2 separate regions of the Homo sapiens genome follow, and region 2 is linked to region 1. Evidence: fine-mapped expression QTL. Tissue or cell type: tibial nerve. Region 1 holds a variant in brackets; the other region holds the start of a gene. All regions are shown on one strand. Distances are from middle to middle.

The links. PIP is the estimated chance that this variant, and not a neighbour inherited with it, causes the effect.
Region 2: KLK8 starts here. The variant in region 1 is fine-mapped to the expression of KLK8 in tibial nerve (GTEx, PIP above 0.99).

The regions. Positions count from the first base shown.
Region 1 is chr19:50,942,383-50,949,891 of GRCh38, reverse strand. It overlaps KLK5 (kallikrein related peptidase 5), which reads left to right. Exons shown (of 6, transcript NM_012427.5): 3 at 1-37; 4 at 777-1,033; 5 at 1,119-1,252; 6 at 6,106-6,589. The coding sequence ends at 6,261. Among named protein-coding and RNA genes, the nearest start is that of KLK5, 6.9 kb to the left of the region's middle. The variant TG/G (reference allele first, on the strand shown) is at 3,455.
Region 2 is chr19:50,997,844-51,005,352 of GRCh38, reverse strand. It overlaps KLK8 (kallikrein related peptidase 8), which reads left to right and starts at 3,749. Exons shown (of 6, transcript NM_007196.4): 1 at 3,749-3,821; 2 at 4,178-4,255; 3 at 4,770-4,929; 4 at 5,095-5,357; 5 at 7,469-7,509. The coding sequence starts at 4,186. KLK9 (kallikrein related peptidase 9) reads left to right here. Exons shown (of 5, transcript NM_012315.2): 4 at 1,513-1,649; 5 at 2,093-2,845. The coding sequence ends at 2,242.

The DNA.
Region 1 (7,509 bases):
CACAGTGGCTGCTCACGGCCGCCCACTGCAGGAAGAAGTGAGTGGGAGTTCCAAGAGGAGGGTTGGTGGGGACGGGGAAGTGGGGGTGGGGGTGGGGAAGTGGGGGTGGGGGTGTCATGGAGGTGAGGGCTGGTGGGGACGGGGAAGTGGGGTTGGGGGTGTCATGGAAGGTGAGGGTTGGTGGGGATGGGTTGGGGATGTGGGAGCAGGAGGAGGTCGAGTTGGGGATAGGACTAAGGATGGAGTTTTGCGGGGGAGCAAGGTGGGAGGATGAGGTTGGAGAGGGGAGAGTGTTGTGGTAGGGAATGGGAAGGAGCCAAGGATGGGTTGGATTTGGGGTTAGGAGCATATATTTGTTGAATGGTTTGGGATGGAGGTGGAATTGGGATTGGCTTTAGAATTGGGGGTGGGTGAAAATCGGGCTGGGGTGGAAATGAAGATAGCATGGAGATAGGGTTGAGATTGGGAGCAGATATAGAATGAAGGATGGGGATTGGAGTTTTGGGTGGGGTTGGAGATGGTTGGATTTGGGCTTGAGAATGCATATGGTGATGGCTTCTGGGTAGGGAAAGAATTAGGGTTGGGAATGGGATGGGTTTGGAATTGTGACTGGGATGGGGACAGGCATGGGATTGGAGACCAAGAGGGAGTTGAGGATGGTTTGGGGACCGGGGGTGGGGATGGGGGTGGGGCTGGGGCTGGGTGTGGGGTTGGGATTGGCGTTGGACGTGGAGATAGAGATCAGGGTTGGTGGTGACCTGCCCCATCTTCCTCAGAGTTTTCAGAGTCCGTCTCGGCCACTACTCCCTGTCACCAGTTTATGAATCTGGGCAGCAGATGTTCCAGGGGGTCAAATCCATCCCCCACCCTGGCTACTCCCACCCTGGCCACTCTAACGACCTCATGCTCATCAAACTGAACAGAAGAATTCGTCCCACTAAAGATGTCAGACCCATCAACGTCTCCTCTCATTGTCCCTCTGCTGGGACAAAGTGCTTGGTGTCTGGCTGGGGGACAACCAAGAGCCCCCAAGGTGAGTGTCCAGGTTCTTCTTGATACCGACCCATCTCTGCCGCCTTCCATCTTTCTCCACTTCTCATTGTGTTCCTGTTTGACAGTGCACTTCCCTAAGGTCCTCCAGTGCTTGAATATCAGCGTGCTAAGTCAGAAAAGGTGCGAGGATGCTTACCCGAGACAGATAGATGACACCATGTTCTGCGCCGGTGACAAAGCAGGTAGAGACTCCTGCCAGGTGAGGACACCTCTCTTTATTCAGCAGATACACACTGAGTGCCAACTCGGTAACATGGAGCGTTGCCAAATTCTGAGAATCCAGCAATTGCCAAGACAGTCAGGACCCCTGTTCTCACAGAGCTCATACCCTAGAGTAGTGGTGTTTAGTAGAAATAATGCTGAGCTGCTTATGTCATTTCCAGTTTTTTAGTAGCCACATTAAAACAGGTAAAAAAGGCTGGGCGCAGTGGCTCACACCTGTAATCCCAGCACTTTGGGAGGCTGAGGCAGGCAGATCACCTTTGGTCAGGAGTTTGAGACTAGCCTGGCCAACATGGCGAAACTCTGTCTCTAAAAAAAAATACAAAAATTAGCCTGGCATGGTGGCGGGCGCCTGTAATCTCAGCTGCTCAGGAGGCCGAGACACAAGAATCACTTAAACCCAGGAGGTGGAGGTTGCAGTGAGCTGAGATCGTGCCACTCACTCCAACCTGGGAGACAGAGTGACACTTTTGTCTCAAAAAGAAAAAAAAAAACAAGTAAAAAAGAAACAGGTGAAGTTAACTTTAATAACCCAATGTATCCCAAATACAATCATTTCAAAGTGTAATTAATATAAAACAATTATGAATGAGATACTTTACATTCTTTTCTTGTTTTCATATTAAGTCTTTGAAAGTGAGTATATATGTTATGCTGACAGCACATCTCAATTTGGACTAGCTACATTTCAGGTGCTCAGTAGCCACATGTGGCTAGCAGTTACTGTATTGGATGGCACGGATCTAGAGGGAAAGATCAGGGCTGTTTTGTATGGTTGGGCAGGTTGTGCACTGCATAAAGATACCATATCTAATAGGGGCACTCCGTGTTACAGATGTCAGTTTTGGCAGTTTTCAGGCGTGTGGTAGTTAAGTGTCTTGTTTCAACAAAATCTGTAATATGACAGTTTTCTAGCAAGTGCTGGTAAAATATCTTGAGGAAGGAAAAGAGAAATCTGGTAGGTATTTTTACAAGAGAATATTTAATACAGGGGATTAATTGCAAAGCTGCTGGAAGGGCTGGAGGAACAAAGTTAAAAAATAAAAAACTCTGTGGTCAAGAATCTGCATAAATAGGGCAATTTCAGAGAGTGGTAAAGGTTAACCCCAAAATAAAACATGGTTTTAGGATAGTAAACAATAAGGGCCAATATTCAAAAAGGTGGTCAGGGGAGCCTCCTTGGAGAGGTGGCATTTGAGCAGAGAATGGATGACACAAAGAAGCTAAACTCGTGAAGTTTAAGGGGAAAGAAAAGGCACGTGCAAAGGCCCTGAGGCAGTAAGGAATTTGGCTGATTCAAAGAAGAAGAGGAAACCAATGCAACTGGAGAACAAAAGTGGGGGCAACAGTAGAAAGTGACGCTGGAGGTGTAGGCAGGGGCGAATGCTCTGCAAGTATTTCTTGGTCACCAACACAGAGCTTCCCTATGTTCTAATGGAAGCTGTATCTGTTGAGGAAGACAGAATTTAAAATCAAACTGTTACATCAACCAGCACCCTTCTCTGTATTCAGGCTCCCAAGGGATCTAGAAGGACGTAAGTTAACAAGCTCTCATTAGCAGGGTGTGTGTTTCAACAGTAGTTAGGAAGCTGGGGATTCAGGAGTACTCCAGTCCCATGGCTATGAAAAGCTCCCCCCAAATTGTACAAACCTGACAAATGCAACACCTCCCCAGCTCTCCCCATTTCTTCTCTGTGCCCTGGGTGTGGGGGGGTGGGTTGCGAGGGGGAAAACTTTTAACAGAAGAAAGCACATCTCGGCCGGGCGTGGTGGCTCACACCTGTAATCCCAACACTTTGGGAGGCCGAGGCGGGTGGATCACTAGGTCAGGAGATGGAGACCATCCTGGCTGACACGGTGAAACCCTGTCTCTACTAAAAACACAAAAAATTAGCCGGGCGTGGTGGCAGGCGCCTGTAGTCCCAGCTACTCGGGAGGCTGAGGCAGGAGAATGGCCTGAACCCGGGAGGCGGAACTTGCAGTGAGCCGAGGTTGCACCACTGCACTCCAGCCTGGGCAACACAGTGAGACTCCGTCTCAAAAAAAAAAAAAGAAAAGAAAAGAAATCACATCTCATTCAAGTGGTGGCATTTAAAACTATTTAGCCTTTCTGTAGGCAAGGTTAGTATCTTGTTTTTCCAGACCTCAAGGTGTTTTTTTGTTTGTTTTTTCATACCGG[TG/G]TGTGGTCTGGGTGTGGCCACTAAAAGCTACAAGCAAGAAATAATAACAACTACAACAATACTAATACCAATAGTATAAAAATAATAGCATCTGGCTAATTGCTGGACACTGTTTTAAGTGGTTTGCATGCCTCAGCTCATTAACTCATTTACCTGTTATTATTGGCCCTATTTTACAAACAAGGAGCCAAGGCTCAGAGCAGTTAACTAACAGCCTCTCAAAAGAAACTCTGCAGAGATATTAAATTTAAAAAATAATGAGAGAAATTAAACCACAAGAAAGTTGAAATTTAGAGGTACAGGCAGCTAAGCTTGTTTGCTTTGAAACAGTGTCTGCTACTGGGAAAAAGGCAAGTCTTGGCTTTCCTAATAATTGATACCAGGACTCTGTAATTCATATTTTGCATGCATGTAAGTAAGAAATGAAGCCGGGTGCAATGGCACATGCCAGTAATCCCAGCACTCTGGGAGACTGAAGTGGGAAGATCACTTGAGCTCAGGAGTTCAAGACCAGCCTGGGCAACTAAAAATTAAAAAAATAAAAATACTAATTGTTTTTATTTTAGTAGATTTTATTCATACCACTTACATCATTATTGTAGTATGTACATATTTATTTCTTTTCTTTTCTTTTCTTTTCTTTTTTGAGACGGAGTCTCGCTCTGTCACCCAGGCTGGAGTGCAATGGCACCATATCAGCTCACTGCAGCATGCGCCTCCTGGGTTCAAGCATTTCTTCCACCTCAGCCTCCCAAGTAGCTGGGATAACAGGCACCCACCACCATGCCTGGCTATTTTTTTTTTTCCGTAGAGATGGGGTTCCACCATGTTGGCCAGGCTGGTCTTGAACTCCTGACCTCCAGTGATCTGCCTGCCTCGGCCTCCCAAATTGCTGGTATTACAGGTGTGAGCCACCGTGCCCAGGTGGGAGATAGACATTTCTCTCTACCTCAAACAGAGGTCCACTCAAGCTACTTTTCATTTTCTTCATAAATATTAGCCGAGTGGCTATTTTGCACCAGGAATGGTTCCAGGTGCTGTGGATATGGCATCAGGCAAAACAGACCAAAAACTTCCTGCCGCGTGGACCTCATGTTCCCCAAGTGGAAGACAGGCAATAAAGAGATAGATAAATATGTAGTAAATTAAAAAAAAAAAAAATTAGCCGGGTGTGGTGGCTTGCACCTGTAGTTCCAGCTACTTGGGAGGCTGAGGTGGGAGAATTGCTTGAGCCCAAACGTTTGAGGCTGCGGTAAGCCATGACTGCACTGCTGCACTCCAGACAGCAGCCTGGGTGACAAAGCAAGACGTTTTTGTCAGAAAGAAAAAAAAAAGAGACGAAGGGAGGAAGGAGAGAGAAAGGAAGGAAGGAAGGAGAAAGAAAGGAAGGAAGGAGAAAGAAAGGAAGGAAGGAAGGAGAAAGAAAGGAAGAAAGAGAAAGAAAGAAAAAGAAAGAAAGAAAGAAGAAAGAAAAGAGAGAGGAAGGAAGGAAAGAAGGAAAAGAGGGAAAAAAATGACTGTTGAAGAGCAGTGAGTATTATTATAGGAGGGTAATTATAGGGAGGTATGGGGAATTGAAGACAGGAAACACAAATTAGTCCAAGCGAATGGATTTCTATTGGGAGTGATTCTGCCCCTAGAAGACACTGGCAATACCAGGAGACATTTTTGGTTGTCACAACTATATGGAGGGGCATTACTGGCAACTAATGGATAGATGCCAAGTGTGCTGTTCAACATGCTATGATGCACACGGCAGGCCTCCACAACAAACCATTATCCAGCTTCAGATGCCCACAGTGCCCAGATCGAGGAACCCTCATCCAGGGGCTGAGAACCGTATTTTTGCAGAAGGGAGGTATAAGGATGGGTTGGTGGAGAATGGGGAAGGAAGGTGTGTGTCCAGTAAGAGAAATAAGGCCTGCACAGGCTGGAGGGGAGAGTGAGAGAGAAAGGGAGGCGGAGAGATACACGATGAGGGAGACAGGCTGGAACAGAAAGTAGAGACGAAGATTCGAGATGTGGAGAGGAAGGGTCACAGACCCCCCCGAAATGATGTGTGGACAACAGGAATCTGGAAGAGGAAGATGGAGTGGAGAGTGACAAATGGGGTCTAAAGGTTGAACTTGGAGGCCAGGCATGGTGGCTCACGCCTGTAATCCCAACACTTTGGAGGCTGAGGTGGGCGAATCACTTGAGGCCAGGAGTTCGAGACCAGCCTGGCCAACATGGTGAAACCCCGTCTCTACAAAAAAAATACAAAAAATTAGCCGGGTGTGGTGATGGACACCTGTAGTCACAGCTACTTGGGAGGCTGAGGCAGGAGAATTGCTTGAACCCGGGAGATGGAGGCTGCAGTGAGCTGAGGTCAGGCCACTGCGCTCCAACCTGGGCAACAGAGTAAGACTCCATCTCAAAAAAAAAAAAGCTGGATTTGGAGTGAAATATTAATAACATTCTCCCTCTCTCTCCTTTTGCCTGTGTCTCCATCTCTGTCTTTTTCTGCATTTCTTCATCTCTGTACTTTCCATCTCTGTGTGTCTGTTCCCATCTGCTTCTCCATCTATGGGCATCTCTGGGTCTCTCATGTCTCCTTCTGCCCACTTTGCCACATCTCTGCCTCTCTCATGCCCCCCTTTCTCTCCTGCAGGGTGATTCTGGGGGGCCTGTGGTCTGCAATGGCTCCCTGCAGGGACTCGTGTCCTGGGGAGATTACCCTTGTGCCCGGCCCAACAGACCGGGTGTCTACACGAACCTCTGCAAGTTCACCAAGTGGATCCAGGAAACCATCCAGGCCAACTCCTGAGTCATCCCAGGACTCAGCACACCGGCATCCCCACCTGCTGCAGGGACAGCCCTGACACTCCTTTCAGACCCTCATTCCTTCCCAGAGATGTTGAGAATGTTCATCTCTCCAGCCCCTGACCCCATGTCTCCTGGACTCAGGGTCTGCTTCCCCCACATTGGGCTGACCGTGTCTCTCTAGTTGAACCCTGGGAACAATTTCCAAAACTGTCCAGGGCGGGGGTTGCGTCTCAATCTCCCTGGGGCACTTTCATCCTCAAGCTCAGGGCCCATCCCTTCTCTGCAGCTCTGACCCAAATTTAGTCCCAGAAATAAACTGAGAAGTGGAATCTTCCTGTGTCTCCTCCCTGTGCAGGGTGGCTGTGAACAAGTCATATCTCCGCCTCCAGGCTCATGTGTTTTGTCTATGAGGTCACTTGGGTTGTGAGAAACAGAGGTCCAGTCAGACTACTTTTCACCTTCTTCATAAATATTGGCCAGGTGGCTATTTTTTATTTTCATTTATTTATTATTATTATTTTTTTTTTTTTGCGATGGAGTCTCACTCTGTTAACCACACTGGAGTGCAGTGGCACAATCTCGGCTCACTGCAACCTCCACCTCCCAGGTTCAAGCGATTCTCCTGCCTCAGCCTCCCAAGCATCTGGGATTACAGGCGTCCACCACCACGCCCAGCTAGTTTTTGTATTTTTAGTAGAAACAGGGTTTCACCATGTTGGCCAGGCTGGTCTCGAACTCCTGACCTCAAGTGATCTGCCCGCCTCAGCCTCCCAAAGTGCTGGGATTACAGGCATGAGCCACCACACCCGGGCCCATGTGGCTACTTTGCACCAGGAATGGTTCCATGTGCTGGGGATAAGGCATTGGGCCAAACAGACCAAAAAGTTCCTGCCTTGTAGAGCTCACATTCCAGGAGTGGAAGACAGACAATAAAGAGAGAGATAATTGGGAGGCCAAAGCAGGCGAATCACAAGTTCAGGAGATCGAGACCATCCTGGCCAACATGGTGAAACCCCCTCTCTACTAAAAATACAAAAATTAGCTAGGCATGGTGGCATGCACCTGTAATCCCAGCTACTCAGGAGACTGAGGCAGGAGAATTGCTTGAACCTGGGAGGTGGAGATTACAGTGAGCAGAGATCACGCCACTGCACTCCAGCCTGGCGACAGTAAGATGCCAGCTCAAAAAAACAAAAGAGAGAGAGAGATAAACTTGTATGTGCCATAGTAATTATGTAAGTGACATGAA
Region 2 (7,509 bases), 55 kb before region 1:
GCTAGTCTCAAACTCCTGGCCTCCCAAAGTGCTGAGATTACAAGTGTGAGCCACTGTACCTGGCCCAGAGATGTTTAAATGTGAAATGCGTTCATCTTAGAATGGGAATAAGACCATGTCTCTCAGAGTCACGGATCACTGACCCATTAGCCAAATTGGGTCAGTGGATTGGAAAAACAGTCTGAATTTGTTGCTGCCAATATCTAAAACTTGGAAAGTTTTATACAAAAGCCAGGTTTCTGGATTCACCTGAAAAAGTTTGAAGAACTCACATTCCCAAAATAGCAAGCATTGGGCTGAGTCAATGGAGGCTGCCCCCTTCAGCCAAGATAAGTTCTCTGATTCACTCCAATGGACCCAAATGGCTCCTGTCTCCCTGCACAGCCCCCGTCCCCGACTTCTGTTTACCAATTCTGTTTATCATATCCCTTGATGCATCGGAGCCTGCACCCATGTCTTATATAGATGCACATGTGTATTATATATCCATATCCACATCTATACTGACTACACTGTATCTGGTATCTCTGTCTATGTCTCTGTCTCCATCAGTGACCATCTTCCTGCAAATCTCTTTCCTTTTATCTCACTGCCTTCATTCCACCCCTTGAGGTCTGGGTCTTTTTCTATTTCTTTTTTTTTTTTTTTTAAGAGACTGAGTCTTGCTCTTGTTGCCCAGGCTGGAGTGCAGTGGTGTGATCTCGGCTCACTGCAACCTCCACCTCCTGGGTTTTAAGTGATCCTCCTGCCTCAGCCTCCCGAGTAGCTGGGACTACAGGTGTGCAACAGCATGCCCAGCTGATTTTTTGTATTTTCAGTAGAGACGGAGTTTCACCATGTTGGCCAGGATGGTCTCAATCTCTTGACCTTGTGATCCGCCCGCCTCAGCCTCCCAAAGTGCTAGGGAGTTATATATGCATCTCCTCTTATCTCTTGGCTCTCTGCATGCATCTTTCTGTTTCTCTTCCTTCCTTTCTTTTTTTTTTTTTTTTTTTTTTTTTTTTTTTTTTTTTTGAGACGGAGTCTTGCTCTGTCTCCCAGGCTGGAGTGCAGTGACCAGTCTCGGCTCACTGCAACCTCCACCTCCCAGGTTCAAGTGATTCTCGTGCCTCAGCCTCCCGAGTAGCTGGGATTACAGGCGCCTGCCACCATGCCTGGCTAATTTTTGTATATTTAGCAGAGATGGGGTTTCACCATGTTGGCTGGGCTGGTCTCAAACTCCTGACCTCAAGCGATCCGCCGGCCTCGGCCTCCAAAACACTGGGATTACAGGCATGAGCCACGGTGCCCGGCCAGCCTCTCTCTCTACTTGGCCCTCTTCCTCCTTGTCTCCATTTGTTTCTCTTGTGTGCTATGACTGTCTGTCTGTCACTGTCTCTTGTCTCTATCTTTGAGAGTCCTAAATGTGGCTCCATTGGTCCTTTGGAAAAGCTGCAGGGAGGACTCAGGGCAGTGGGGTGCTGAGTGTGTTGGAGACAGTTGCAGATCCTTGACAGTTCTCTTCCCTGACAGCGCTGTTTCCAGTCACACTGCAGTGTGCCAACATCAGCATCCTGGAGAACAAACTCTGTCACTGGGCATACCCTGGACACATCTCGGACAGCATGCTCTGTGCGGGCCTGTGGGAGGGGGGCCGAGGTTCCTGCCAGGTGAGACCTTACTCTGGGGAAAATGAGGCTGTCCTGCCAAGTTTTCTAGGATTTAGGGGAGCAGAGGGGTCGGCCCCCAGCCTTCCTGGGTCAAAATGAGAAGGAGACTGGGATACCTGGTTCCTGGGAGAGGACGGGACCAGGGCCTGGACTCCTTAGTGTAAAAGAGAAAAGGTCTGGAGGTCCAGACTTCTGGATCTACAGGAGGAGTGGGCTGGGCGTCCAGAGTCTGAGTCCTCGGGGAGGAGGAGGTTAGGTCCTGCGGGGAGGTGGGCCCTCTGAGCTTTTACTCCTGGGTCTGAGGAAGAAGAGGCTGGAGATGGAGGACTCTCGGATGTTGGAGGAGGAAGGGGCTGGGGCCTTTCTGGGAGGGAGGAAGTGGCCCGTGTAATTGTCATGAACAGAGTGGCCTAACAGTTCCTCTGCCCTTCTCTCGCGTACAGGGTGACTCTGGGGGCCCCCTGGTTTGCAATGGAACCTTGGCAGGCGTGGTGTCTGGGGGTGCTGAGCCCTGCTCCAGACCCCGGCGCCCCGCAGTCTACACCAGCGTATGCCACTACCTTGACTGGATCCAAGAAATCATGGAGAACTGAGCCCGCGCGCCACGGGGGCACCTTGGAAGACCAAGAGAGGCCGAAGGGCACGGGGTAGGGGGTTCTCGTAGGGTCCCAGCCTCAATGGTTCCCGCCCTGGACCTCCAGCTGCCCTGACTCCCCTCTGGACACTAAGACTCCGCCCCTGAGGCTCCGCCCCCTCACGAGGTCAAGCAAGACACAGTCGCGCCCCCTCGGAACGGAGCAGGGACACGCCCTTCAGAGCCCGTCTCTATGACGTCACCGACAGCCATCACCTCCTTCTTGGAACAGCACAGCCTGTGGCTCCGCCCCAAGGAACCACTTACACAAAATAGCTCCGCCCCTCGGAACTTTGCCCAGTGGGACTTCCCCTCGGGACTCCACCCCTTGTGGCCCCGCCTCCTTCACCAGAGATCTCGCCCCTCGTGATGTCAGGGGCGCAGTAGCTCCGCCCACGTGGAGCTCGGGCGGTGTAGAGCTCAGCCCCTTGTGGCCCCGTCCTGGGCGTGTGCTGGGTTTGAATCCTGGCGGAGACCTGGGGGGAAATTGAGGGAGGGTCTGGATACCTTTAGAGCCAATGCAACGGATGATTTTTCAGTAAACGCGGGAAACCTCACCTTCTTTCTGCCTGAGCTGTGAGATGAGTGGAGAGCAAACGGGTGGGCGGTGAAGGGCAGATGAGGGAACCGGTACCGCCTTGCAACTCCCCCTTAAACCCCTAGTAAGTTTTGCCTAAAGTCTCTGTCCATCAGCCCTATTGCAGCAAGACTCCTGGGTTCTGCTTGGGTTGGTCTTGCCGCCTCCAGGGGAAGGGGAAACCAGGTCACAGTGCCTCCCAAACCTGCCCTCCCAGATCCCGGACCTCTCAGGGGACAGCGGGCGGGGCCTGATCCACCCTCTGGTTTCTGACCCTAGAAGACCTGCCTTTCTTCGGTTCCCGGTTACTGGCAGCAGCCCCCTCCTCCCACAAAAGATCAGGTTCCAAGCTTCTCCTTTTAAAAGTACTTAGAATTCAGCCCCCAGCTCTCTCCTCCCTCACACCCAGGAATCCAGGCCCCTAGCCCCTCCTCCCTCAGACCCAGGAGTCCTGGCCCCTAGCAGCCCCCTCCTCCCTCAGACCCAGGAGTCTGGGCCCCCAGCCCCTCCTCGGTCAGACCTAAATCCCAGGTCCCAGTCCCTCCTCCCTTAGATTTAGGAGTCCAGGCCCCCAGCCTCTCCTCCCTCAGACCCAGGAATCCAGGCCCCCAGCCTCCTCCCCTCTCAGAACTAAAATCTTGGCCCCCAGCCCTTTATGTTTCAGATCGTAGAGTCTCAGCACCGAGTCCCTCCTCTCCCTAGCCTCAGGAGTCTGAGATTCCAGCCCCTCCTCCCTCAAGATTTCACGTTCAATCCCCTCCGCCCCTTCTCACTCACACCCAGTGTTCCAGTTCCCAGAAGCTCCCCAGGCTCTAGTGCAGGAGGAGAAGGAGGAGGAGCAGGAGGTGGAGATTCCCAGTTAAAAGGCTCCAGAATCGTGTACCAGGCAGAGAACTGAAGTACTGGGGCCTCCTCCACTGGGTCCGAATCAGTAGGTGACCCCGCCCCTGGATTCTGGAAGGTGAGGTGCAGAGGTACTCAGATACAGACATCAGGCCCCGGACCCTCCTTCTCCAGATTCCAGGACCCCAGCCTCAGATGCCCTTCTCTGTCGAGATCCAGCAGTCTGGACCCCGGCTTCCTCCTCTCCCTAATTTAGGAGTCCCAGCTCCCAGCTCCCTGTCCCCTCAGACCCAGACATCGAGGACTCCCCCCTCCCTTGGAATGTAGGAATCCAGTCCCCCAGCCTCCTCCTTCCTCCAGAGAAGCCCAGAACAGCCCCAGATACTCTCGGCTGCCTCCCCAGTGCCCAAATCCAGAACTGGGAGCTCAGGCTCCTCCTTCCTGTTTACCGGCCCCGCCCTCTCCATTTCCCAGACCTCACCATGGGACGCCCCCGACCTCGTGCGGCCAAGACGTGGATGTTCCTGCTCTTGCTGGGGGGAGCCTGGGCAGGTGAGGAGGGTTGCGGAGGCCTCCGGAGGGGAGGGATCTGAAGGCAGCAGTGGCGCTGGGGAGTCTGTGGGAATGCCGCGGGGGTTATGTGGGTGCGTGTGCACGGATGTGAAGAGTGCGATACGGTGCAGGAGCCTCTGTGGGCTTTCCTCAGGGTGGACAGAGGCAAGAAACAGGTAGCAGCAGGTAGGAGTAGGTTCCGTGATGCTGTAAATTGTCTGAATAGCTACAGCCTTTGGGGGCTGCTTGCTTGGGGGCATAGATTCACCTGGGAGTACTCGGGGCCTGTAGACTCATGTGGAAGCATGTGGGGGCATTCTTGGGTGTGTGACTCTTGTATGATGACACATGGACTGAAATGAGTGTCCCCGTGTGGCAGCGTGTGGAAGCCTGGACCTCCTCACTAAGTTGTATGCGGAGAACTTGCCGTGTGTCCATTTGAACCCACAGTGGCCTTCCCAGCCCTCGCACTGCCCCAGAGGGTGGCGATCCAACCCTCTCCCTCCTGCTGCAGGACACTCCAGGGCACAGGAGGACAAGGTGCTGGGGGGTCATGAGTGCCAACCCCATTCGCAGCCTTGGCAGGCGGCCTTGTTCCAGGGCCAGCAACTACTCTGTGGCGGTGTCCTTGTAGGTGGCAACTGGGTCCTTACAGCTGCCCACTGTAAAAAACCGTGAGTGGATGATGGGGGCAGAGGTCAGCTGGGGCTTAAGGAAAGAGGGGGCTGGGGTTTCGACTCAGGAAGGAGAGAGCTGAGGACTGGACTCCTGGGTCTGAAGGAGGAGGGGGCTGGGGGCAATACCCCTGCCTGGGTCCCAAACTATCCCCACCATTACAGGAAATACACAGTACGCCTGGGAGACCACAGCCTACAGAATAAAGATGGCCCAGAGCAAGAAATACCTGTGGTTCAGTCCATCCCACACCCCTGCTACAACAGCAGCGATGTGGAGGACCACAACCATGATCTGATGCTTCTTCAACTGCGTGACCAGGCATCCCTGGGGTCCAAAGTGAAGCCCATCAGCCTGGCAGATCATTGCACCCAGCCTGGCCAGAAGTGCACCGTCTCAGGCTGGGGCACTGTCACCAGTCCCCGAGGTAGTGGGCTTGTCCACTAATGGGAGGGAGAGGAGGAGCTGGTTGGCCCAGTGGAACCCAAGCTATTGGCAAAGCTTGGTCCCCCAGAGGGAGACAAAGAAGGGAAAGTGATCATGATGTTGAGATTCACAAGCAGGAGTCATATGAGAAGCCTCGAAGATCTGACTACTAACAAGAGTGGTGAGAGAAAGAACCAACTAGCAGATTGTTAAGCAGGGCCAGAAAAGCCCATCCTGTATGGCGGAGAGCACTACCCTATGGGACCTTTGGTTGTATAGGATTTTATATAATCTTAACACACTTGGGATATTTGGACTTCTCAGAGGCCCAGGAAAACAGGCTCCTAAGCACCTTCTCCCCCACCTCCCTCCTTTTTTTTTTTTTTTTTTTTTTTTTTTTTTTTTTTTTTTTTGCAGGGGGACACAGTTTCACTCAATCGCCCAGGCTGGAGTGCAGTGGCACAATCTCAGCTCACTACAATCTCTGCCTCCTGGGTTTAAGCGATTCTCGAACCTCAGCCTCCCGAGTAGCTGGGATTACAGGCACCCGCCACCACGCGAGCTAATTTTTGTATTTGTTGTAGAGACAGGGTTTCGCCATGTTGACCAGGCTGGTCTCGAACTCCTGACCTCAAGTGATCTGCCCGCCTCGGCCTACCAAAGTGCTGGGATTACAAGCATGAGCCACCGCCCCTGGCCTTTTTCTCCTTCTTGAACCCAGGAAACCTGGGCCCTGGTCACCTCTTCCCTCAGACCCGGGAGTCTAGGCCCTTCTTCTCCCAGGACCCAGCAGTCCTAGCTCCCTCTTGACTCTGGACCCCAAAATCTGGACCTCCAATGAAGCTGTCCCTTTGGGACTCCAGAATCCAGAGAGCCCCTCGCCTTCCTTCACAGTGAAAACATTGGGACTCACCTAAGAGAGTCAAGGAGCTTCTCCAGGAAGTGGCAAAGTCAGCATTCAGGTCCCTGCCTGCCTCACTCCTGCTCTGAATGCTTTGGATGAGACAGTTTGCGGCTGTGGAAACACACGTGCTCGCAAATCAAGTAGATCAGTTCAAACTATGGCTCTGCCCTTTCTCCCTGGGCAAATTCCTTTCCATCTCTGAGCCTCACTTTCCTTATCTGCAAAATGGGAATCATTAACCAATAGATTTTTTAGCTACGTGAGGGTTCAGGTTACATCAGTTTTCTTCATTGTGTTCTCCTAGTGCTCAGAATGGTGCCTGCTACATGGTAGATGCTCAATAAATATTTGTTGAATGGATGACCTGATGAATAAATAATGAAATGAATGAATGCATCTCTCCTTCAAAGCGCTGTTGTGAGGATTAAATGAGATTATGAGCATATTGCTTTTGGCACGTAGAGATGCCAGATGGAAGTTTTTCCCCCTCAAAGAGGCTTTGGAGAAGTCTATTCCTCAAAAGAGGTTAATAAAAAAGATCAATTCCACCTTCAATCATTAATTCAACTCTTATTTACTGAGCACCTAGTATGCCTGAGGTGCTGTTGCAGGCGCTGGATATACAGCCATGAGCAAACTGTACAAAGTCCTTGTCGTTATGGAGTTGCAAGCTAGGTGGGAGAAATAGACAATAAACAAATACACATAAAATAAAACATTAGGCAAAGTGCTGTAAGGAAATATTGTGGAGCGTAAAAGGATAGGGAGTAATGGAGGGATGGTATTTTTTAATTCGAGTGGTCAGGGAAGGCTTCCAGGAGGAGGTGACACTTGGAAGGAGCAGGATTTAGCACAGATTGAGGACCCGGTTGTCTGAGGGCAGGAAGACTGGAAAGAGAGGGTCAGAGGTATCATAAAGGGGCACCTCCAAGTAACCCCCAGCCCCTTGATTTGAAAATGGCTCAGGGTAAGAAAAAACACGTGAGATCCAAGGGCCCCTCTCTAGATGGAGAAAGCCCAATAGCAACAAGTACAGCTTCGTTTAATGTGGTGAGAAGTGATGTCCCCTGTGCACAGTGTCAGAAAATTCCCCCATGCAGCTGGAAAACTCCCCCATTACATCCTGGAAAGAAAGGGGGTTAGATCCAGACAGGGATGGAGGCAAAGGGCTGCTCTCTCAGGGAACCTTACAACCTCTTCCCCCTCAGAGAATTTTCCTGACACTCTCAACTGTGCAGAAGTAAAAATC